3 linked regions of the Homo sapiens genome follow. The protein of the gene in region 2 purifies or fractionates together with the protein of the main gene of each other region. This does not show direct contact. Each region holds a gene or a part of one and is shown on either strand. Other genes may lie near its edges.

Evidence for each region.
Region 1: the proteins of PPM1B (region 2) and PAXX purify together in Homo sapiens (co-immunoprecipitation; 3 studies listed by BioGRID and IntAct, with this or other methods). This does not show direct contact.
Region 3: the proteins of PPM1B (region 2) and FEZ2 purify together in Homo sapiens (affinity purification with mass spectrometry; 2 studies listed by BioGRID and IntAct, with this or other methods). This does not show direct contact.

Annotation. Positions count from the first base shown.
Region 1 is NC_000009.12:136,987,586-136,994,773, forward strand, and holds PAXX (protein PAXX), read left to right. Parts: upstream 1-4,836; 5' UTR 4,837-4,858; coding exon 4,859-4,977; intron 4,978-5,054; coding exon 5,055-5,115; exon of another isoform or gene 5,116-5,119; intron 5,120-5,339; coding exon 5,340-5,389; intron 5,390-5,467; coding exon 5,468-5,658; intron 5,659-5,757; coding exon 5,758-5,826; intron 5,827-5,994; coding exon 5,995-6,079; intron 6,080-6,180; coding exon 6,181-6,220; coding exon of another isoform or gene 6,221-6,281; 3' UTR 6,282-6,391; downstream 6,392-7,188. Other genes in the region: CLIC3 (chloride intracellular channel protein 3), read right to left, coding at 7,096-7,188. UniProt on the Homo sapiens protein: Non-essential DNA repair protein involved in DNA non-homologous end joining (NHEJ); participates in double-strand break (DSB) repair and V(D)J recombination.
Region 2 is NC_000002.12:44,199,323-44,207,252, forward strand, and holds part of PPM1B (protein phosphatase 1B), read left to right. Parts: intron 1-1,863; 5' UTR 1,864-1,877; coding exon 1,878-2,723; intron 2,724-7,930.
Region 3 is NC_000002.12:36,594,872-36,603,132, reverse strand, and holds the start of FEZ2 (fasciculation and elongation protein zeta-2), read left to right. Parts: upstream 1-4,964; 5' UTR 4,965-4,990; coding exon 4,991-5,256; intron 5,257-8,261. UniProt on the Homo sapiens protein: Involved in axonal outgrowth and fasciculation.

The DNA of each region.
Region 1 (7,188 bases), on a different chromosome or scaffold from region 2:
ACCACGCCCAGCTAATTTTTGTATATTTAGTAGAGACGGGGTTTCACCATGTTGACCAGGTTGGTCTTGAACTTCTGACCTCAGGTGATCCACCCACCTCGGCCTCCCAAAGTGCTGGGATTACAGCCGTGAACCGCCATGCCCGGCCTCAGGCCTAAGTCTTGATGGTGGCCAACAAGGTCTTCTCTTTTAGGCTTTCCTTTGACCCACCATCCACTCCCCTCCCTCCGTCCTGCTGCCAGCCCCTCACGTGTCTCAGGGCCTTTGCCCAGGTCACCCCTGCCTGGACTGCCCTTCTCCCAGTGCCACTCAGTGCACTCACTCCCGTCTCTGAAGTCTTGCTCAAATACCTCCCTTGGTTGTTGACCTCTGCTACCCCAAAACTTGACTGGCCCCCACTCCCCTAGAGCTCGTTCTCCGGACCTTTTGCTCCTCTTTTTGGCCCAGCTTCCAGGTGCTCTATGCCTTGGGAAAGGTCAGCCCTTTCCCTCCCCTGTTCTGCCTCCATCACCGACTTCAAGTGTGTGCGTGGGGACTTTGTAATCCCTCTCCTTCTGCTTGCAAAGCTCCACTAACCTTATATCTCATACACTGTATTAATGTATCCTACATTAAAGAAAATTGCTCCCATGGCTGGGTGCAGTGGCTCATGCCTGTAATCTCAGAGCTTTGAGAGGCCGAGGCAGGCGGATCACCTGAGGTAGGAGGTCGGGAGTTCGAGACCAGCCTGACCAACATGGAGAAACCCTGTCTCTACTAAAAAATACAAAAATTAGCCAGGTGTGGTGGTGGGCATCTGTAGTCCCAGCTACTCGGGAGGCTGAGGCAGGAGAATCGCTTGAACCTGGAAGGCAGAGGTTGCGGTGAGCCGAGATCGCACCACTGCACTCCAGCCTGGGCGACAGAGCGAAACTCCGTCTCAAAAAAAAAAAAAAAAAAAAAGTATAAAAAAGTATCTCAGAGAAGGACGTGGTGGAAGCCAGTGGAAAAGCTGCTGCCAGTAGATGAAGCTGGCCCGATGTGAGCCACGAAACAGAACATGACACCAGGGTGTGAGCCAAAGTGTAAAATAAACACCTGAGGTCCACACGGACCCAGCCTGAGGCTAGTTAAATGAAGGTTTTGCAGTTTTCTCGTCATGTTTTGGAACTAATCTTTGTTTCTGGTCTTGTGTCAGTTCCTACAGCTGCCACAAATTATCACAAACTTGTAGCTTGAAGCCAGAGTTCAAAATCAGTTTAATAGGGTCGAGGTATCAGCCGGGCTGTGCTCCCTCCGAGGGCTCTAGGGGAGAAACCTTCCTTGCCTCTTCTAGCTTCTTTGTCTTCTTTTTTTGTTGTTGTTGAGACAGAGTCTTGCTCTGATGTCCAGGCCAGAGTACTATGGCGCGATCAGATCACTGAAGCCTTGAACTCCTGGGCTCAAGCAGTCCTCCTGCCTCAGCCTCCTAAGTAGCTGGGACTACAGGCATGCATCGCTATGCCTGGCTAATGTTTTCTTTTTAGAGATGGGTCTTGCTGTCTTGCTCAGGCTGGCCTTGAACTCCTGGCCTCAAGCAGTCCTCCCACTCTGAACTCCCAAAGCACTGGGATTGCAGGCATGAGCCACTGGGCCTGGCCTCTTCTGGTGGGATACCCTACCTTGTTTCCACCTGAGTGACCCTCTCCTGGCAGAGAGAGAGCCGGACACACTCCATTTTAGTTTCTTCACCTGCGGCCCCCTTTCACCTTCCTCCCTGAAGGCATAGCTAGTGTAAACTGACTCAAAGCACGTCCAGGAATGCACCTACTGATAAGACATTGAGGCAAGCTGCACCAGCAGCTCCTGGGGACACGCGTGGTGGATGGCACCCAAAACCCCTGCATTTATCTCTTTGTGATAGTTTAAGCCTCTGCACCTGGAACTGTTTATTTTTTGTAACTGCATTTGTAACCAATTAATTTTTTTAACTTTTTGCCAGTTCTGCTTCCGTAAAAATTGCTTCAGCTAAAATCCCCCCTCCCCTATTTAGACCACGGTATAAAAACAAAACTAGCCCCTTCCTCGGGGCCGAGAGAATTTTGAGCGTTAGCTGCCTCTCAGTCGCGGCTAATAACGGACTCTTTAATTTGTCTCAAAGTGTGGCGTTTCTGTATAACTCGCTTGGTCACAACACTGGCTTCTGATAGCAGCCTGTAATCCTTGGCTTGTGGGCTGCATCGCTCCAGTTCCTCCCTCCATGCCATGCTGCCTTCTTTTCTGTCTCAAAGCTTCCTCTGCCTCACTTTTAAAAGGCCCTTGAGATGGCACTGAGGGCCTCCCTGGGCAATCCAGGATAATCACCCCATCTCAAGGGAATATCTGCAAACACTCCTTTCTTTTCTTTCCTTTTTTTGGGGGGAAGGGGAGACAGGATCTCACTCTGTTGCCCAGGCTGGAATGCAGTGCCCAGCATCTTCCATAGACAATAGCATTCACAGGTCCCAGGGATTAGGGCCTGATATCTGGGGCCTGCTACAGCCAGCATCTCAGAGTTCACATGACAAAGAAGAGGCCCCCCAGTCCTCTCCAAATCTGCCCCACCCCAGTCATCTTGGGGATGAATCTCCCCTTTCCACTCTTCCCAAATGCCAGGGCCATCCTTGATTGTTCTTTGTCTCCTCCTCCCTCCACCTCCAGTCCGAGCCCATGGTCCACCCCTCTCCTCTGCAGCCCCCGTCCTCTCTCCTCACAGCACAGAATACGGACTTCACACACATAAGTCAGACGTGCCACTTCCCATCCACCCCTGCTTAAACCTCCAACAGCCACCACCCCCCATTCATTCATTCACAATGTTTATTCAGTGTCTGTATGTGCCAGCCATTGTGTAAGCGCTGAAGAGACGGATACACTGGCAGGTAAAACAGACAGAAATCCCTGCCCTCATGGACCTCCTGGGGTGATGGACAATAAGCAGGGTAAATAAGTGTATTGGTGGTCACTTACTGCAGAGTGACAGGTTACCCCAAATGCAGCTGCTTAACCAGCAGGCATGCATTATCTCCCAGTGTCAGCCAGGCAGGACTCTGGGCCTTTGACACAAAGTTTCAGGAGGCTGTGGTCAAGCTGCCGGCCGATGATGTGGTCTCATGGGAAGGCTCAGCTGGGGCGTCAGCTTCCCGGTTCCCTTGCTGGCCATGGTCATCCCCTTAGGGCTGCCTCATGTCACACCCAGCAATTCAAGAGCAATTTTGTCCTATTCTAGTTGCCAGAAGCAAGTCATTAATAAAGTCCAGCCCAAGGGGAGGGGAGTGCAGAAAAGTCTAAACCCAGGAGGGTATAACAGGGAGCTAGCTGCCAGAATAAAGCAAGCCAAAGTGTACTTTCTACAGTGAGAAGTGTGAAAAATAGGGAAATGACAGGAGAGAGGGATGTGAGAGCTGGGCAGCATGCTGCAATGTCAGAACAACACCAGGGAAGGTCTCACTAAAGTGACTTTTGAGTAAAGACCTGAAGGAAGCATGTGAGTCTGGGGAAAGGATGTGCCAGGCAGAAACAGCAGCATGTGCAGAGGCCCAGGGGGCAGGAGCCAGGACTGGGAGTGAACTGGGAAGCAGGAGGAGGTGAGGCAGGCTTGCTGTGGGAGCACTCCGATATGGAAGCGTAGCTTACAGACCCACTGGCCCTCCCCACAGCACCATGCTGCCAACCTGGCCTTCTTGCCGAGCCTTGAACAGAACCATTATTTATGTGGCCAGGCCTCCGCCTGGGATCTCCCTGTCCCTGGTGGGAGCCATCCTCTTCCTCCTGCCCTCATAGCACCCGCTGCAGTTTCTCCTGGCGCTTGGCCCTGCCTGAGAGTGTGGTGTCTCTCCTATTGGATCCTAGAAGCTCCAGGGAGTCAGAGACCTTGTCTGTTGATCGATATCCAGGCCTAGGACAACAGGCACGTAGGAGGAGCTGGAGGAATACCATGCGCGGGACAGAGAGCGCAGAAGCCTTCTTCCCTGGAGATCGCTCTGTACTGTGACTTCTTTTTTTGTTTGTTTGAGACAGAGTCTCGCTCTGTTGCCCAGGCTGGAATGCAGTGGCGCGATCTCGGCTCACTGCAACCTCCACCTCCCTGGTTCAAGCAATTCCCCTGCCTCACAGGCGTGCGCCACCACACCTGGCTAATTTTTTTGTATTTTTAGTAGAGACGGGGTTTCACCATGTTGGCCAGACTGGTCTCGAACTCCTGACCTCAGGCAATCTGCCCGCCTCGGCCTCCCAAAGTGCTGGGATTACAGGCGTGAGTCACCTTGCCGGACCAACCGTAACTTCTTACGATTAGAGTTAGGAAGCTTCCGGTTTGTGTGTGAAGACGATGGAAGGGCGGGGCTCCAGGATGTATCCGCAGAGCCACGGAGGGAACCTGGACTCGGCTGGACTTGGAGCCGGGGCGGGGGCGGGAGGGGGCGAGGTTCGAGTGGGGCTGCTCGCGGGCGCGAGGGCCAGAGCCCGGGATCGCGCCGTGGAGCCCACGACCGGCGAGGCCAGCGCTGGGGGCAGGGCCTCTGGATCCCTGACCCAGGACGCCCTGCTCCGGCCCGCCCCGCGCACTAAACTCGGCCTCTAGTCGCCTGAAGCCCGCGCGGGTACCGGGTCCGCGCGGCCCGGCCTGTGCCTTTAGCCCCGCCCCGAATCCCCCCACCCTCATAACCCCGCCCCTAACCCCGCCTCCACACACAGACCCCGCCCCCAACCAGACTCCGCCCCGCGCAAGCTCCCTAAGCCCGCGACTGGCCTGCACCCGGCTCCGGAAGTCGTTCTTCCGCGCAGGAGCCCTGAGCCCGCACAGCCCCGCCCCTCCCGGCGCCCAAGCCCCGCCCCGCCGGGTTCCCGCTCGCCCGGCGCCATGGATCCGCTGTCGCCGCCGCTCTGCACGCTGCCGCCGGGCCCCGAGCCGCCCCGCTTCGTGTGCTACTGCGAAGGGGAGGAAAGCGGGGAGGGGGACCGCGGCGGCTTCAACCTCTAGTGAGTGGGGGTCCGCGGGGAGGTAGGGGTGCAGGGAGCTCCGCGGGCGGCCCCGCCTGACAGGCCTTCTCCCCCAGCGTGACCGACGCCGCGGAGCTTTGGAGCACCTGCTTCACGCCGGACAGCCTGGCGGCCCTCGTGGGTAACTGGGCGGGTCTGGGAGCCGCCACACCCCTCCTTGCAGTGCAGATCGTCTATGGGGCGACAGACATCTGGGATTCCCCAGAAGGCTCTGACACCCTCTGCCCGCCCTGTAGCTGTAGTCCTCCCATTGGCTAGGGCTCTGGGGTCGGGCAGGTTTCGGGTGCCCCCAGTGGGCCTCGGGTTCCAGGCAGCTCGTGACAAGCCCCTGTGCTCTCTAGAAAGCCCGTTTTGGCCTGAGTGCGGCTGAGGACATCACCCCCCGGTTCAGGTGAGACCCAAGCAGGGAGGAAGGACGGGTGGGGAGGAGGAGGGTCTGCCACAGCTCTCCGCACCTCTCCTCTCCCAGGGCAGCCTGTGAGCAGCAAGCTGTGGCTCTGACTCTGCAGGAGGACAGAGCATCCCTGACGCTTTCAGGGGGGCCCTCGGCACTGGCCTTTGACCTCTCCAAGGTACCAGGCCCAGAGGCAGCCCCCAGGCTGCGGGCGCTGACACTGGGCCTGGCAAAACGCGTGTGGAGCCTGGAGCGGCGACTGGCAGGTAGGATTGGGGGTGGGCACCTCATACCTTCACTGGGGTCCCCTGCTCTTGCCCCCACTCCTGGCACTGAGTGGGGTTCCCATGGGCTTTCCTCCCCAGCTGCAGAAGAGACAGCTGTCAGCCCGAGGAAGAGCCCCCGGCCTGCAGGGCCTCAGCTCTTCTTACCAGGTAAGGCATGTCCGCCTGTGACTCAAGTAGGGCTGTGCTCTTTAACCTGGAACTCAGTTTCCCCCCAAACAAGACTCACGCTCCAGAGAGAATGCCTATCTATTCGGAGAAGGTTGTGGTTGGGATGCTGCCAGGTTCAGGAGCTGCCCCTGTCCTGTTTTCCCCCAGACCCAGATCCCCAGAGAGGTGGCCCTGGACCTGGAGTCAGGAGGCGGTGTCCAGGAGAGTCGCTCATCAACCCCGGGTTCAAGAGGTACCCTCCCACAGCCCCCTTCCTGCGCCCAGGGTCCAATCCTGGACCCCACCCCTTTCTCCACACCATAGTGCCATAGTGACACCCCTCTTCCCTCCCAGTAAGAAACCAGCTGGTGGCGTGGACTTCGATGAGACCTGAAGGTGCAGCACAAGCGTGGCCCCGCGGGGAGTCCGCCTATGAGGGGAGAGGCAGTCTTTGAGGCCCCCATCAGAGACCCCCCGCCACCACCTCCACCTGCCTGTCCTGGGCCAGGACTAACACGGCTCCTCAAATTCCTTCCCTGTCAAATAAACAGCTCCCTTGGTTGGAGGCTCTGGTGGGGCTCTGACTCCTGGCACTGGCCTGGGAAGGGATCAGGGAACACCCCTGGGCCTGTGTTCTGGGTGTAGGGCCACAGGATGTGAACAGATGCTGCAGCCTCTCAGCTCCCTGGAGACTTCCTTGCTGGGCCGGAGGGAGGTGAGCACTCTCAGACCGTCCAGCTATTCCAGCCCTGCCAGCCCAGGAGCTGAGAGGGGCCCAGCCAGGCAGGGCCAGGGCTCCCCAAGGCTTAGAACTTTGTTCCCACCCTCCCAGGCCGCACCCAGGTAGGGCACGGAGCCCCGTGGGAGGATGCAGACAGAAGTCCCGTGTAGACCCTGAGACACTGGAAGTGCCCTGCGGGGAGGGGAGCGCCTGCCCCGGGACAGGATTGAGGAATGTGCCAGCCCCCATCCACCTGGGGCACCCCGCCCCACCCCGGCCTGACTGGTTTGGGAGCCCAGTCCGGTCCTGGAGATCCCTGAGGCCACCGGTTGCAGGAGGCCTGGAGTCTGCGCCTTCTTAGCGTGGAGGATGGGACCGGCCCGACCCCCGGCGCTCCTGCCCCTGTGGTTCTGGGCTATCGGGCTGAGCGTCCCACCCTGGGGTTTGGGGATGGGAAGTGATCCCGAGACCTCTGGCCCTTCAGATGTCAGGACACCCTCACTCCCGACAAAGATGCCTTTATTGGGCGACAGACGCGGGGTGGGGCGCTAGCGGGGGTGCACGGCGGGCCGGTAGGCCGCCAGGATCTCGGCGCTGTGCGGACACGTGTATTTGAACTCTTTCTCCTGCATCGCGCTGTC
Region 2 (7,930 bases):
ATAAAAAAAAAAAAAATTGAGCCAGGTATGGTGGCACGTGCCTGTAGTCCCAGCTACTTGGGTGGCTGAAGCAGGAGAATGGCTTGTGAACCTGGGAGGCAGAGGTTACAGTGAGATGGCACCATTCAACAGAGTGAGACTGTATCCCCTCACCCCCCAAAAAAGAAAGAAAAGTGATTTAGTAAATACAGCCAACAATTCTGTTTCATTTGCATTTAAGTATCTTTTAAAGTTGCCTTTCAGATGAAATAGCCTATACAAGCAAGCATATAAAAATGTACTTAGAACTAGGCTTTAAAATCATTGTATCACAGAGAATTAAACCAGCATGTTCAAAAGTAATCAAGCATATTCTGTTACATTGCTCTCAGTACAAAATATGACATTCTACTGATAGAATGAAAAATAATTTTTACATGATTTTAATCTTATCCTTTCAGGACTCTTTTTCTATAAATACATTTGTAATTTATTAATACAGTATCACATATAACCCAGGAAAATTATAAAACTGGTATGTAACTTATAAATATTTACATATATATATCGAGTGGTTCATCAGATTTTTTTAAATGGCGATATGTAATTTTATTGTAAAGTTCAATAATGATCATACCTGGAAAAAATCTCACAAAGATACGTAGACCCAAATGGAGGTAAATTGATCTAGACCAGTGTCTCTCAAAACTTTAAATCACCAGCATGCTTTTTTGATGATTCCATCTAAGATCTATTGAAAAAAATCCTTAGGTGTGGGAATAGGGCTATGGAGTCTGCATTTTGAGCAGATATAACAGCAAACATTTTATGGTGTTTATTGTGTTTTAAGTGCTGTTTTAAGCACTTTACATTGACTCATTCTTCACAGCAGCCCTATGAGGTATAGGTACAGGTGACTAAGAAATTTGCCCAAGGTCACCTAGTTAGAGTGTAGGGTTAGCATTGTATGTAGAAAACATACCAGAGAATTCTTTTGCATACTTTTGGGAACCATTACTCTAAGTCTAATCTAAGTCATTTGAAATTGGGAAAGCTTTATTCTATAAAATAGTAAAGTTGGGTAGGCGGGGAGAGGGTGATGCATAGTAGTACTTTCCAATTCTAAGGATTTTAAGTCTTTGTCAGTCAACACTGGGTAGCTACTTCATGGATTTTAAGTTCAGCAAAGTGAAGTCCATTTTTTAGCACCATGTTAAAGGTATGTTTTTAACAGAATCAAAGTAATGATAAGGTTTTCAGTTTTATAGATATATAGTAAAAGTGATAAAACCAAATGTGTGTAGAATGGAGATTTTTATGTTTTAATTGAATTTTGGGGTTGTCTTTAGGTTCACTGGGAGGAGAAATCTTGATTTCAATACTTGCTTTTGAAAGTCTTCTAAAGTATATTAGTATACCTTCCTACCTTGATTTATTGAACAAGATGACTCACTGTTTTGAATATTCTCATTGTCCAGTCTTCTGTAAACTTACATGTCGAACCCTAGACTCACCTTGTAAATTAAATCAGAATGAAATTATTAATGAAGTTTTATTTCTTGTTTTTTCCTTTCTCCTAGAACAGTGGTCTCAACGTGGCTGCACATACAAGTCACCAGAGAGGCTTTTAAAAGATGATATCTGTGTCCCATCCCTAGGGATTCTGATTTAATTGGTCTGATTATTCTTACGCGCTAGGGCTGAGAAACCACTGTTCTGTAGGATGTAGGGGAGGAAATTTCTTGGGCTTTTGTTGTTGCTCCCGTAAATTAGGATAATACTAAAAAAAATACTTGAGGTAGGAGTTACTAGACTATAGAGGGAATATTGTACATACATTTTCTGTCAAATTTAAACATTTAACACCTGCATTTTTTATTTCAGATTTATTGCTAAACATGGGTGCATTTTTGGATAAACCCAAAACTGAAAAACATAATGCTCATGGTGCTGGGAATGGTTTACGTTATGGCCTGAGCAGCATGCAAGGATGGAGAGTGGAAATGGAAGATGCACACACAGCTGTTGTAGGTATTCCTCACGGCTTGGAAGACTGGTCATTTTTTGCAGTTTATGATGGTCATGCTGGATCCCGAGTGGCAAATTACTGCTCAACACATTTATTAGAACACATCACTACTAACGAAGACTTTAGGGCAGCTGGAAAATCAGGATCTGCTCTTGAGCTTTCAGTGGAAAATGTTAAGAATGGTATCAGAACTGGATTTTTGAAAATTGATGAATACATGCGTAACTTTTCAGACCTCAGAAACGGGATGGACAGGAGTGGTTCAACTGCAGTGGGAGTTATGATTTCACCTAAGCATATCTACTTTATCAACTGTGGTGATTCACGTGCTGTTCTGTATAGGAATGGACAAGTCTGCTTTTCTACCCAGGATCACAAACCTTGCAATCCAAGGGAAAAGGAGCGAATCCAAAATGCAGGAGGCAGCGTGATGATACAACGTGTTAATGGTTCATTAGCAGTATCTCGTGCTCTGGGGGACTATGATTACAAGTGTGTTGATGGCAAGGGCCCAACAGAACAACTTGTTTCTCCAGAGCCTGAGGTTTATGAAATTTTAAGAGCAGAAGAGGATGAATTTATCATCTTGGCTTGTGATGGGATCTGGGATGTTATGAGTAATGAGGAGCTCTGTGAATATGTTAAATCTAGGCTTGAGGTATCTGATGACCTGGAAAATGTGTGCAATTGGGTAGTGGACACTTGTTTACACAAGGTATGTAAACTTTTTTGTCATTAAAATAACATGTTAATTTTGAAAAGTTACGGTAGGTAAAGTTAAGCTAACTTAAAATTTTAAAACTTTTAATATTTTCACAGAAGCTGTATATTTTGAAGTACTTTACCAGAAATGAAACCATTGTTTTCTTTGCCATCCTTGTTTGTCCCAGCCTTCTAATTTGAAAATTAAGCTTGATAAATTTGAGGCATTTGTTGTCATTTAAGTACTTCATAGCTTGTTGCTGTAGCAAAAGCATTTACACAGAGTGACTTTTTCTTGACATTGGCAGTAACCATCTTATGCCTGATTATGAAGCAGCTTGATAAAATATGTATATAGTAGAATTCTGTACTAGATATTACTAAAAGATCAAGAGCCATGTGAAATATTGGAAGATGTACTAGATGCCTAGCCTGTATAAAATTTAGTCCTGAGCCTCCTAGCAGTGAAGACAAAAACTGAAATAAAAATATGGGTTGTATATTTCTCATTGTCTTCTAAAAGCAGCTCTTATCTGGCAATACAATCTAAAAAGGATTTACATGTGGCTCTCTAAGTAATACATGACTTGGATAGTATCTTTTGTAGAAGATAAAATTCTTTTCATATAGATGTTTTTATTATTTCTGATTAAAAACCAAAGGCTTCTATAAAACATAATCTTGTGAAAAATTCCTGTGGAACACTAAAGTTTATTTAGATTTGTAATTTTGTATGAATCATTGCTTGATACAGTAATAGAAAAAAAGTCCAGAGTAATAGATAATTGGCAATCCTTTGAATATCTTTAAAATACTCAGTTGTTTCAAGTGGGTTTTTGACAGCATCTATATATAATTCAATTAAAATTTGAGTTATCTGGCCAGTGTCTGGAGTGTGTAAGTATTTGACTGAAAAGATACCAAGGTAAAACTGACCTTTAGTTACATGAAATAAATAAAGGGTTTGACTTATTTATTCTGTCTAGATTAGAACCACTGTATCTCCCTACTCCAAAATGTACTGTGGAAGGTATGGGCATAACCAGAAAGTTTTTCAGAAAGGATCTCTGGGTCTCTGGAAATGCCCAGATTTTGGTTAAATACCGATTTCTTTTTAATAGAATGGAAAGAGGCAGTTTTAAAAACAGAAGATTTAAAGGCCGTTCTTGTCAGTGGACAGCCTTTTTCTGAAAGGATTTTAATGATGGTACCTCTAGCTCCTCTGATTTTTATTTTTAACACACTGTATCTTTTTACTTCTGGATGAGTTAAGTAAAGAAGTATTGATGGTTGTCAGTGATCAAATAGTAAGTGGGTCTAAAATTATGTATTTGTCTTTGAACTCTAAATGAAGCAATTCTGACCTGTAGATTTTTGAGACAAGCATAGGCATATGTTTGTTGCCTGACTAGCTAATGAAAACAGCATTTTCCCCAATTATAAAAAAAAGGTATATACTTACTATTGGAAAAAAAATCCAGATGATGAAGAAAATATAGAGAAACACCCAAAATTTTGCCATCCACCCTAAGTCAGCTACTTTCATTGTTGTGGTGTATATTGTTCCAGTCTTTTCTGCCTGCCTGTGAGTGTGTGTATTTTTATAAAACCGAGATGATTATACTTGTTATTCTACAGCCTGCCTTTTCCAACAATATATTGTAGAGAGATCTCCATGCCTATAAGTATTGATCTGTATCATTTTTCTTGGCTGCGTAGTATTTTATTGAAAGAATGAGGTTGTGAGGGAATAGCCAAAAAATCTATTAGGTCTGTAATTTGGACTAAGGAAAGAAGTTTGTGTTAGTAGATTAACTCACTTATCCATTGAAAGGATGCTAGTTTTTGAGAATTTTGACTCGACCCTTCTGAATGAGGTTTAAATATTTCTGGTGGTATATCTTCACTTGCTAGCTTTTATCAATTTAGAGTGATTAAATGTTCATGTTGATGGTGTTAAAAGATTCTAGATGGCATCCTAGAATCTCAGAAATGAGGAATGATAATAACAGACAAGAAGTTGGGGCCCATGATTCATTCAATGTTAATGGAAGCTGACCATCATAGTTCCTTCTAATGGAGCTGCATTCAAATTGAAATCAGTTTGGAGGTTTGAATTGAAACAAAACAGACTTAAAATTATTTTTGAACCTTTGAAAGTTACTTATGGAAACCTTCATTTCTGTTTAACTTCGTAATTTTGTCTTTCCATTTATTTGTATTGTAAAAGCAAGGGTTAGCAATAAGATCAAATATAATTACTTTGAATTTACTCAGAAAAATTGTAAGTTAAAAATTCATGGAAAGCACTTAGCGATTGCACAGTAGTTACCTGCTGTAAGAGGAGAGGAAACATTAATAAGTAGATGTTTCCCTGATAAGAGATTTAAATGAAGTCCTAGTTTTTTCTAACACCTCCATCACTTGTCATACTTTCATAATTTATAAGCACTTTTATCTTAACTCATTAAATCTTGGGAGGTTATCATAATCATAATCGTGGTAGTATTAGTAAATTATTGCTTTCTGTAAGCCAAACACTATTCTAAATACTTTACATATTTTAACTCATGTAATTTTCACAACCATATGAGGTAGTTAAGATGACGAGGTCAGGAGATCGAGACCATCCTGGCTAACGCAGTGAAACCCCGTCTCTATTAAAAAATAGAAAAAATCGGCCGGGCGTTGTGGTGGGCGCTTGTAGTCCCAGCTACTCAGGAGGCTGAGGCAGGAGAATGACTTGAACCCGGGAGGCAGAGCTTGCAGTGAGCCGAGATCACGCCACTGCACTCCAGTCTGGGTGACAGAGCGAGACTCCGTCTCAAAAAAAAAAAAAAAAAAAAAAAAAAGATAAGCATTTTTCAGGGTTGCCAGTTAATATTAATCTGTAAGTGTTGTATGACTGTGGTCAGGTATTATCCTATTTAAATTAGGTATTTAACTCGAGGGGAGAATGGGAGCTAAGAAAGCAACCCTCCCATTTTATTTGCAATGCTGGCATTTATGGTGTTTACTGCCAACTAATTTCGGGTTGCTTAAAATATGTAACTGCCACGTGCATAGCTTTTCATAACTTGTAAATGATACATACTTATTAATCCTCATAGTAACTTTCTGAGGTGAACAAAATAAAAAGTTTTTTTAATTTGCAAGTAAGGAAATGGAGGTTGTTTGATATTAAAAGATATCCATAAGTCATATACTTGGTGAGTATTGAGGCTGAGACTAGTTTTCTGACTCAAGTTTAGTATTTTTGTTAACAATATTTCCCAGAAGGGCCTGATAAAATAAAGAAGAGTGGGTGTGGGTGTGGGTGTGGGTGTGTGTGTGTGTGTGTGTGTGTGTAAGTGTCTGTCTGTTTCGGTTTTCATGGTCTGAGAAATTTTTCCCCAAGGGAAACATTAAGACTAAATTTTTTTTGTAACAAATACAGAGATGTTTGAAGTAAAGTGATTCCCCTTGATGTTTCTGCTTTCCAGTCTCATCTCACTTAGGGAACCACTGCTCATGGTTTGCTGTATATCTTTCCAAATGGTTCTCTGTGATTATTGATAGAAATGTATAAACGTAAAATAGGATTTTTTCTTTTTTTGTATTTTATAGAAAAAGATCATGCTATGTTTGTTACTTTGTCACCTGTTTTGTTTTTCTTAAATTATAAAAGTCGGTATTCTTTTAAATTGTTCTTTTAAAACATTATTTGATTTTCCAAAATTTCATTTATATACCATCTACCAGAAGCCTATTTATTTTAAAACATGAGATAGTACCTCATAGTTGGATAAAATTGAGGGAAATTATCATTTTCCAAAGGCAACATCATTCTATATTAATTTATATAACATAGAAAATGTAACCCCCTCAATAATTGTTTAGTTCTAAACTCAGGAGAATTGCTTGAACCTGGGATGCAGAGGTTGCAGTGAGCTGAGATCGCGCCATTGCACTCCAGCCTGGGCGACAGAGTGAGACTCCGTGTCAAAAAAACAAAAACAAACAAAAAACTGTATCAGATTGTTTTCTGTTTAAGTTTAGATGCCCTTATTTATGGCAGGGGCACTGGCGTCTTTGATCTGGTACTATGATTATTAAGAGTGTTAACTGCTGTGCTGTTGTAAAAAGTAAAAAGAACATGTAATAATCAATTTTTATATGCAGAGCTAATTTCTTTAGTTATCCAAACTGGATTTAGAAAAAAAAATGTTTTATTTATGGACTTAGTGAAAACTTTATACTGATTATACAAGGATGTTTTGTCTCTAAAAAACAATGGCACAAAGGAAAGGACCTTTTCTGTTGCTGTATAACAGCTACTGAAACATATTCATACTTGGTGTTTAGGGGAAAGCCATCTTTACATAGAAATAGAAGCAAGCCAGGCAAGGTGGCTAAGAAGCAACATCACTGAAATCACACATGCCTGAGATGTAAATATAAATTATTTCCCTTAAATGTCTTTGGAGAACCATAAATTTATTGGAACTCTCTTTCAATTAATTTTCCAAAAGTATTTATATTTTATAACTTACAAAAATCGAATGGAAATTAGATAAGGAAATGTTCCACAATGCTCATGTTGTTGTTACCAAAAACTCAAAAGGGTTAAAAGAAATTAGATTTCTAAAAGTGTAAGGTGTTAATTCCGTTTATGCATAAAATTGCTTTATAAAGTGTAATTATGCTTGATTCTTTTTTTGTTGTTGTGTTTTAGAAAGGGTGTCTCACTGTGTTGCCCGGGCTAGTCTCAAACTCCTGGCCTTAAATGATCCTCCTGCCTCAGCCTCCCAAACTGCGGGGATTACAGGCAGCCACCATGCCCAGCTGTTTGATTCTTGAATATCCATGGTGTACTTTAAAATTATTTTTAATTAAAAATTTTTGCTTGAACTGCCCTTATGACATTTATACAAGTATATTCATATAACCAAACACATACAGTATTTCTAATATAAAAGTTTTGGTGGGTTTCATTAAGGAATGAATTAATTTGGCCAATTTGGAAATGGTTTTTCCAGATAACCGGGAATCTAATGAAATACTCAAGTTGGTTCCTTGTTCCAAAGCACAACAATCTGTGACAAGTTAATTTATTTTGAAGTCTTCTGAAGACCCAACCTTCACTGCCTTCAAACTTTACTCCCATTGAATTAGGAGGTGAAGGCAGAAGTTATTCAAGGCCACCTGTCTTTTGGGCTGTGTCATGTAGGTTCTGAAAGG
Region 3 (8,261 bases), 7.6 Mb from region 2:
AGATTTCCATGATGGAAAGGAAATGAGAGGTTCTGAGAGGCGGGGTAGTGGTTTGTACTATAGCATAGCCTGCCTTTGCTGGTGTGTGGCGATTAGGCCTGGTGGAACTGCCATCAATAAATCAAGTGTGATCGGGGTGAGGAACAGGAAAGAAGGAAATACGGGGAAATGGGGTGAATATCAGGTGGATCAGAGAGATACAGTCATGGGGGTCAGGTGTGGTATCAGGAATAATGTGGGAGGCCGGATTGAAGTCCGGGCCAGGAACAATGGTAATTGTGGGACTTAACAAAGAGTGAGTACAGCTGAAGGAGCCGGGGAGCAGAAAGTATATGCGTCAGGTGTGAGAAGAAAATAGATTTTGGAAGTTATGAGAAATGTAGAGAATGAGTTGAGCATAGTTTGTGATTTTTAGGGCCTCTAACAGTATTAAAGCAGCGGCAGCCACTGCATGCAGACATGAGGGCTAGGCTAAAACAGTAAGGTCAAGTTGTTTGGACAGAAAGGCTACCCGGTGTGGTCCTGGCTCTTGTGTAAGAATTCTGACCGCACTAACCATGCCTAGGAAGGAAAGGAGTTGTTCTTTAGTAAGGGATTGAGGTTTGGGAGATTAATCGGACACGATCAGCAGGGAGAGCACGTGTGTTTTTACGAGAATTATGCCGAGATAGGTAACAGATGAGGATGAAATTTGGGCTTGACTGAAGTAATGGGGGCTGTCTGTGAAGCCTTGCGGCAGTACAGCCCAGTCAATTTGCTGAGCCTAATGGGTGTCAGGGTCAGTCTAAGTGAAGGCAAAGAGAGGCTGGGATGAAGCGTGCAAAGGAATAGTAAAGAAAGCATGTTTGAGATCCAGAACAGAATAATGGGTAGTAGAGGGAGGTATTGAGGATAGGAGAGTATATGGGTTTGGCACCACGGGGTGGATAGGCAAAACAATTTGGTTGATAAGGTGCAGATTCTGAACTAACCTGTAAGCCTTGTCTCGTTTTAGGAGAGGTAAAATGGGGGAATGGTAAGGAGAGTTTATAGGTTTTAGAAGCCCATGCTGTAGCAGGCGAGTGGTAACAGGCTTTAATCCTTTTAAAGCATGCTGTGGGATGGGATATTGGCGTTGAGTGGGGTAAAGGTGATTAGATTTTAATGGGATGGTAATGGGCATGAGATCGGTTGCCAGGGAAGGAGTAGAGATGTCCCATACTTGTGGGTTAAGGTGGGGGGATATGAGAGGAAGACACGAAGGAGGCTTTGGGTTGGGGAGAAGGGCGGCAATGAGATGTGGCTGTAGTCCAGGAATAGTCAGGGAAGCAGATAATTTGGTTAAAATATCTCGGCCTAATAAGGGAACTGGGCAGGTGGGGATAACTAACAAAGAGTGCATAAAAGAGTGTTGTCCAAGTTGGCACGAGAGTTGGGGAGTTTTAAGAGGTTTAGAAGCCTGGCCGTCAATACCCACAACAGTTATGGAAGCAAGGGAAACAGGCCCTTGAAAAGAAGGTAATGTGGAGCAGGTAGCCTCCGTATTGATTAAGAAGGGACGGACTTAACCTCCACTGTGAGAGTTACCCGAAGCTTGGCATCCGTGATGGTCTAGGGGGCTTCCGAGGCGATTGGGCAGTGTCAGTCTTCAGCCGCTAAGCTGAGAAGATCTGGGAAGGAGTCAGAGAGCCTTGGGCCAGAGTTCCAGGGGCTCTGGAAGTGGCTACCAGGTGAGTTGAACAGTCCGATTTTTCAGTGGGGTCCCGCACAGATGGGACACGGCTTAGGAGGAATCCTGGGCTGTGGGCATTCCTTGGCCTGGTGGCCAGATTTCTGGCACTTGTAGTAAGCTCCTGGGGGAGGAGGTTCTGGAGGAACCCCTGGCCGCTGCGGTTCGGGCGTTTGGAAGTTCTTGTGTGCTGGAGATGTGGCTGGGGTTTGTCTCACAGTGGAGGCAAGGAATTGCAACTTTATTCTATTATCGTACACCTTGAAGGTGAGGTTAATTAAGTCCTGTTGTGGGGTTTGAGTGCCAGATTCTAATTTTTGGAGTTTTATTTAATGTTGGGAGCAGATTGGGTAATAAAATGTATATTGAGAATAAGACGGCCTTTTGACCTTTTAGGGTCTAGGGCTGTAAAGCGTCTCAGAGTTGCTGCCAAACGAGCCATGAACTGGGCTGGATTTTTATATTTGATGAAAAAGAGCCTAAATGCTATCTGATTTGGGATAAAGAAAAAGGAGCATTAACCTTGACTATGCCTTTAGCTCTAGCCATCTTTTTAAGAGTAAATTGCTGGGCAGGTGGGGAAGAGCTAGTCGCGGAACTAAACTGTAAGCCAGACCAGGTGTGAGGAGGGGAGGTGATAGAAGGATTATAGGGTGGAGGAGTTGGGGCTGAGGAAGAATTGGGACTTAGCTCGGCCTGGCGACGAGCAGCCTGGGGAGGAGGGGAAAGGTCAGATGGGTCTGTAGAAAAGGAAGACTGGAAAAACTCAGCGACGCTTGGGGTTGGGACTGAGGGGATAGGCAGGAGGGAAAGGAGGATCTGGGAGGAATCGCATTGGGAACAGAGGCTAGGGAGGGAGTGAAGTGTGAAAAATGCCTGGACGTAAGGCACCTCAGACCATTTGCCCATTTTTCTACAAAAATTATTTAGGTCTTGTAGGATGGAGAAATCGAAAGTGCCCTTTTCTGGCCATTTAGAGCCATTGTCAAGTTTGTATTGGGGCCAAGTGGTGTTGCAGAAGAAAATAATGCATTTAGGTTTTAGGTCAGGTGTGAGTTGAAGAGGTTTTAAGTTCTTGAGGACAGGCTAAGCGAGAAGGAGGAGGAATGGAGGATGGAAGGTTGCCCATAGTGAAGGAGGTAAACCCAGAGAAAAGAGAGCGTAGAGACATGGAGGGAAGGGGTTCGGGGTTGTTACCCTCCAGAAAAGCGGGAAGGGGGGTTGGGGCACGGAAATAAGGGATTGGGGCACAGAGATAAGAGATTGGGGTGTGGAAATAAGGGATTGGGGGTTCTTGCCACCTAGAAAAGCGGGACTTGCCGCTAAGGGTGAAGGAGAAGGGGTTGAGGGGTTCTTGCCCCTGCCCCAGAAAAATCACAGAAGGGGTAGAGACAAGGAGAGAAGGGGTTGGGGTACTCGCCCCTTCCTCAGAAAAGCGGGACTTGCCGCTAAGGGTGAAGGACCAAGGCAGGCGTCCCTGCGTGGTCTGACACCTTTGAAACGTGGGTGAATAATCAGAGGCGTCCCTGCAATGATTAAACACCAAGGGAAGGCTGCCTTCCCAGCCCGTGACCGGCGCCGGAGTTTTGGGTCCACGGATAAAACGTGTCTCCCTTGTCTCTACCAGAAAATGAAAGGAACTGAAATTAAGAGAAGGGAGAGATTGAAGTGCGGCGCCAAGATTGAAAGGAGAAAGAGGTTGAGGGATAGTGAGGGAAGCTGGAGAAGACAGTAAAAAGAGGCCGCTTACTGGATTTGAAATTGGTGAGATGTTTTTTGGGCTGGTCGGTCTGAGGACCTGAGGTCGTAGGTGGATCTTTCTCATGGAGCAAAGAGCAGGAGGACAGGGGGATTGATCTCCCAAGGGAGGTCCCCCGATCCGAGTCACGGCACCAAATTTCATGTGCGTCCGTGTGAAGAGACCACCAAACAGGCTTTGTGTGAGCAACACGGCTGTTTATTTCACCTGGATGCAGGCGGGCTGAGTCCGAAAAGAGAGTCAGCGAAGGGAGATGGATTATCATTAGTTCTTACAGGTTTTGGGTCAGGCGGTGAAGTTAAGAGCAATGTTTTGCGGGCAGGGGTGGATCTCACAAAGTACATTCTCAAGGGTGGGGAGAATTACAAAGAAACTTCTTAAGGGTGGGGGAGATTACAAAGTACATTGATCAGTTAGGGTGGGGCAGGAACAAATCACAATGGTGGAATGTCATCCTTAAGGCTATTTTTACTTCTTTTGTGGATCTTCAGTTACTTCAGGCCATCTGGGTGTATATGTGCAAGTCACGGGATGCGATGGCTTGGCTTGGGCTCAGAGGCCTGACAGCTAGATTTTGTATTTTTAGTAGAGACGGGGTTTTACCATGTTGGCCAGGTTGGTCTTGAACTCCTGACCTCAAGCGATCCGTCCACCTGGGCCTGCCAAAGTGCTGGGATTATAGATGTGAGCCACCTCGCCTGGCCTACTCCAATTTTTTTGTATTGTAGTAAAATAAACATAAAATTACTATCTTAACCATCTGTAAGTGTATAGATCAGTGGCATTCAGCACATTAACACTGTCGTGGAACCATCACCACCATCCATCTCCATAACTCTTTTCATCTTGCAAAACTGAACCGCCCAATCACACTTAGTTTTTATGAGGTCTAAACAATTTCTTGTTACTCTTATCACTCCGACATTGTAAGCCCTGTGTATGGGGCACCCATGTATTAGTTATAACATACACATAGGGTATCTACTATTAGGCATTGCTCTAAGTGCTTTGCAAATGTTAACTGGCATAATTATCTTTGTATGTTCTGCAGGATCTAGCCAGTGCTTTGCACGTGAGAGGTAAAATATTTGAGGAATGAACTTCGGTACCACCTAAACATTTCCCATTGACTCTGGCTGTTATTCTGGTTGGCAAGTTAGGAAAGGAGCAGGTTACCTTGGGGAAAACGACTTTCGGGGCGTAATCTGATATTAGGTCGTAAGTTTAAAGAAGTCCTTTATTTTAGCCACATTTAGGCCAAGTTGCTAATAAGGGAAGCTAACAGGGAAGTTATTCCTAAATGATAGAGAATATAGGAAGTGACTCAAGGCAGTTAAGGTCTTGGCTTTCTAGTAGCACCGCGTTCAACTCCAGGAAGACTCAGGCCACCGGAGACCCAGGGTTGGGACAGCCTGGGATCTGTCAGCACGGTAGCGGGCGGGGGCGGGGCTTCGGGCCGGGGCGGGGCCGGGCTGGGCGGGCTGGGCCGGCCTGGGCGGGGCGCGCGACTGCTCCGGGCGGCGATGGCGGCGGACGGGGACTGGCAGGATTTCTATGAGTTCCAGGAGCCGGCCCGGAGCCTCCTGGACCAGGAGAACTGTAACGCGAGCCCCGAGCCTGGGGCGGAGGCGGGGGCCGAGGCGGGTGGGGGCGCCGACGGTTTCCCGGCCCCGGCCTGCAGCTTGGAGGAGAAGCTGAGCCTGTGCTTCCGCCCCTCGGATCCGGGCGCCGAGCCCCCGAGGACGGCCGTGCGGCCCATCACGGAGCGCAGCCTCCTGCAGGGGGACGAGTGAGTGCGGGGCCCCGGCCGGGAGTGGGCGGGAGCCTCCCCTACCCCTCGCCCGACCGGCAGCCCTACGGCCGCAGCTCCTCCCTGCGCCCTCCTTCCGCCCGGACGCGGGAGTCCCCGCCCTCTCGCCTCCTTCCTCCGGCCGTCGGCCTCGGCTCGCCCAGCAATTTAAATCCCCTGCCCCCCGCCGCCACGAGCCCTGAAAACCTCCGCCTCGGTACCTCCCGCCCTCCTTCCTGCAAACCAAACCCTCGTTTGTATTAGAAGGGAATCGCCCATGCAGAGCCCATAGTTAGAGACGGCACCTCCTGGGGCACCTCCTGGGGCACGTGTGTCGCCATTCATTCACTCAAGTCGCATTTATTAAGCACCTGCTGAGTGCCAGGCGCTGCTTCGCACAGGGAACACCAAAACGACTGGGCACTGTCCCTCCCACTTAGGACACAACGTAGGATGGGAGATAGATTTGTAAACAAATACATGTATGGATGTAATTAGCGCTGCAATGGTTATATGTACCAAATGTGAGAGACTTAAAAGCGTGTGTCTTGGGGAGAGTAAGGAACGACTTTATAAAGAAATGTGCAAACGAGATCTGACTGATGAGTGGGAGTGTGCCTGGCAGGTGGAAAAAAGTCTAACGTTCTAGGTGGAGTATATTGCCTGTGCATAAGTACCAACGTGCGAGGCAGCATTTAGGGCACAGGAATCTGTGGGACCCACCCGGGAGCCCTGGTAGAGTGCGAGCCGCCACAGAGACGAAAACGAAGGGCCCTGCTTACTGATGGTAACGATCGCATGGTCTGGTGGGGAGACCAAGGCATACACAAGTAATATTAATAATTACAGAATCACCTAAGAGCAATGATAGGAGGTTCACGGGGTTTTATCACAGCTGGGAGAGGTGAGGCGCAGAGTTCCTGAGGGCACTTTTTAAACCACCTGAGCCGCAATTATAATTTGGTTAAGTAAGAGTTGTAATTAGGTACCATGGTTTTACCCCCAAAAGATGGTAAATAGGAATGGTGAGAGTAAAGGGACTTGAGCATGTTGTGTATATAGGGGGAGAGGAGCCTCCGGAGAGGCTGAAGGTAAAATGAGTGGAATAAGATTGGGCGCGGTGGCTCACACCTGTGATCCCAGCACTTTGAGAGGCTGTGGTGGGAGGATGGCTTGCTTCCAGCAGTTCGAGACCAGACTGGGCAATATCGTGAAATCTGGTCTTTACAAAAAAATTAAAAAAAAATTAGTGAAGTCCGGTGGCGCATGCCCGTGGTCCCACGGACCCAGCTGCCCGGAGGCTGAGATGGCAGGATTGCTTGAGTCCTGGAGGCGAAGGTTGCAGTGAGCCATCATCGCACAACTGCACTCCAGCCTGGGTGTCAGAGCGAGACTTTGTCTCAAAAATGAGGACATGGGAAGGAATGGATTTTCAGAGCATTGATGGGATGGAGAGACTCTTAGAGGTTAGGGAAGAATTTTTGAGAGACAGGACAGGAGTCACGGGCACGGAAAGGAGTTTCCAGCCTGATTGTCTCCTTTCCTTTGTGAAACAAACAGATTTATCAGGAATAAGGTAGGAAGCTTGTAAAGACAGCCTTGGGAGTGGGGCCTGTAAACATGGCTGAGCAGTGGTGCAGGCCCACCTGTGTTTGGAGACCATCTCCTTTTATTGGTTCCTCAGTACAGTGTTCTGCCCAGGTGTAGAGAAGGGAAACACTTATAATTGGATTTTATACACACATGCATGCCGTCAGTAGCAAAAGATGACATTTTTGGAAGCCTGTTCCCAAAGAGAAGATAATTTTATGTATATGTAGATTTAGATACTCTGAATCACTAAACCCAGGACACATTCTGGATTTAAAAATTAGTGTAGATGTATTATGTATTTGGGTTTTTCAAGAGTAGCTGACTTAAATCAATTAGAGGATTGTACGTAGATCGTTAAGAGTTTTTGTTTCACTTAGACCGTCAGGAGAGTAGGTTATTTTAGCCTTTGCTTAAAAATATTTTGTCGCTCTTGTTAATGGTATTTAGTAGATGATATGTTGGTGGTAATGCATGTCTCTTGACTTGGGAATGCATATGAAATCTCTTTTTTTCCGGGAGTTGGGAGCTGGTCATCACTGGCATTGTCCCTTTTATATTGCAAAAACATACTCATCATTGCTTGATAGTCTGTTCCAGTTCCCTTTTCACTAGATATAATTGATAATTGTTTTACTCAGATATTGCTGTGCTTTAGGTCAAGGGGTCCCCAACCCCTGGTCCACAGACCGGTACTGGAACTGGGCCACACTACAGGAGGTGAGTGGCTGAGTGAGTGAGCAAAGCCTCATCTGTATTTACAGCTCCTCCCCATTGCTTGCATTACCACCTGAGCCACCTCCTGTCAGATCAGCCACGGCATTAGATTCTCATAGGAGCGTGAACCCTATTGTGAACTGCACAAGTGAGGGTTCTAGTTTGCAGACACCTTATGAGAATCTAATGCTTGATGATCTGTCACTGTTTCCCCTCTCCCCCAGATAGGACCATCTAGTTGCAGGAAAACAAGCTCAGGGCTCCCATTGATTCTACGTTATGGTGAGTTGTAAAATTATTTCATGATATATGACAGTGTAATAATAGAAATAAAGTACACCGTAAATGTAATGTGCTTGAATCACCCCAAAGCCCTCCCCGACCCTTGGCACTTCATTTAACTTCTCTGAGCCTCAGCTTTTGTTTTGGTTAAATATGGATTGTATTTACGTACTGAGGTTTTACTTATAAGAGTATTCTGCAGGATTCGATGTTGGCAGGACTTTGACCTCCTTGCAAAAGAGCTGTCCTGACCGTTGTTTACGACTGGTTGTAATACTTGGTGATAAAGATGAAGGCAGTTCATATGTCTTGACTGCAGAATTCTAGAAATCTTTCACTAGAGTTGCCTCTGTGTCCTTCCAACTACCATTGTTTTGACCTTGGTGGAGACTGTTAGTTGGCTTTCATTTTCTTGG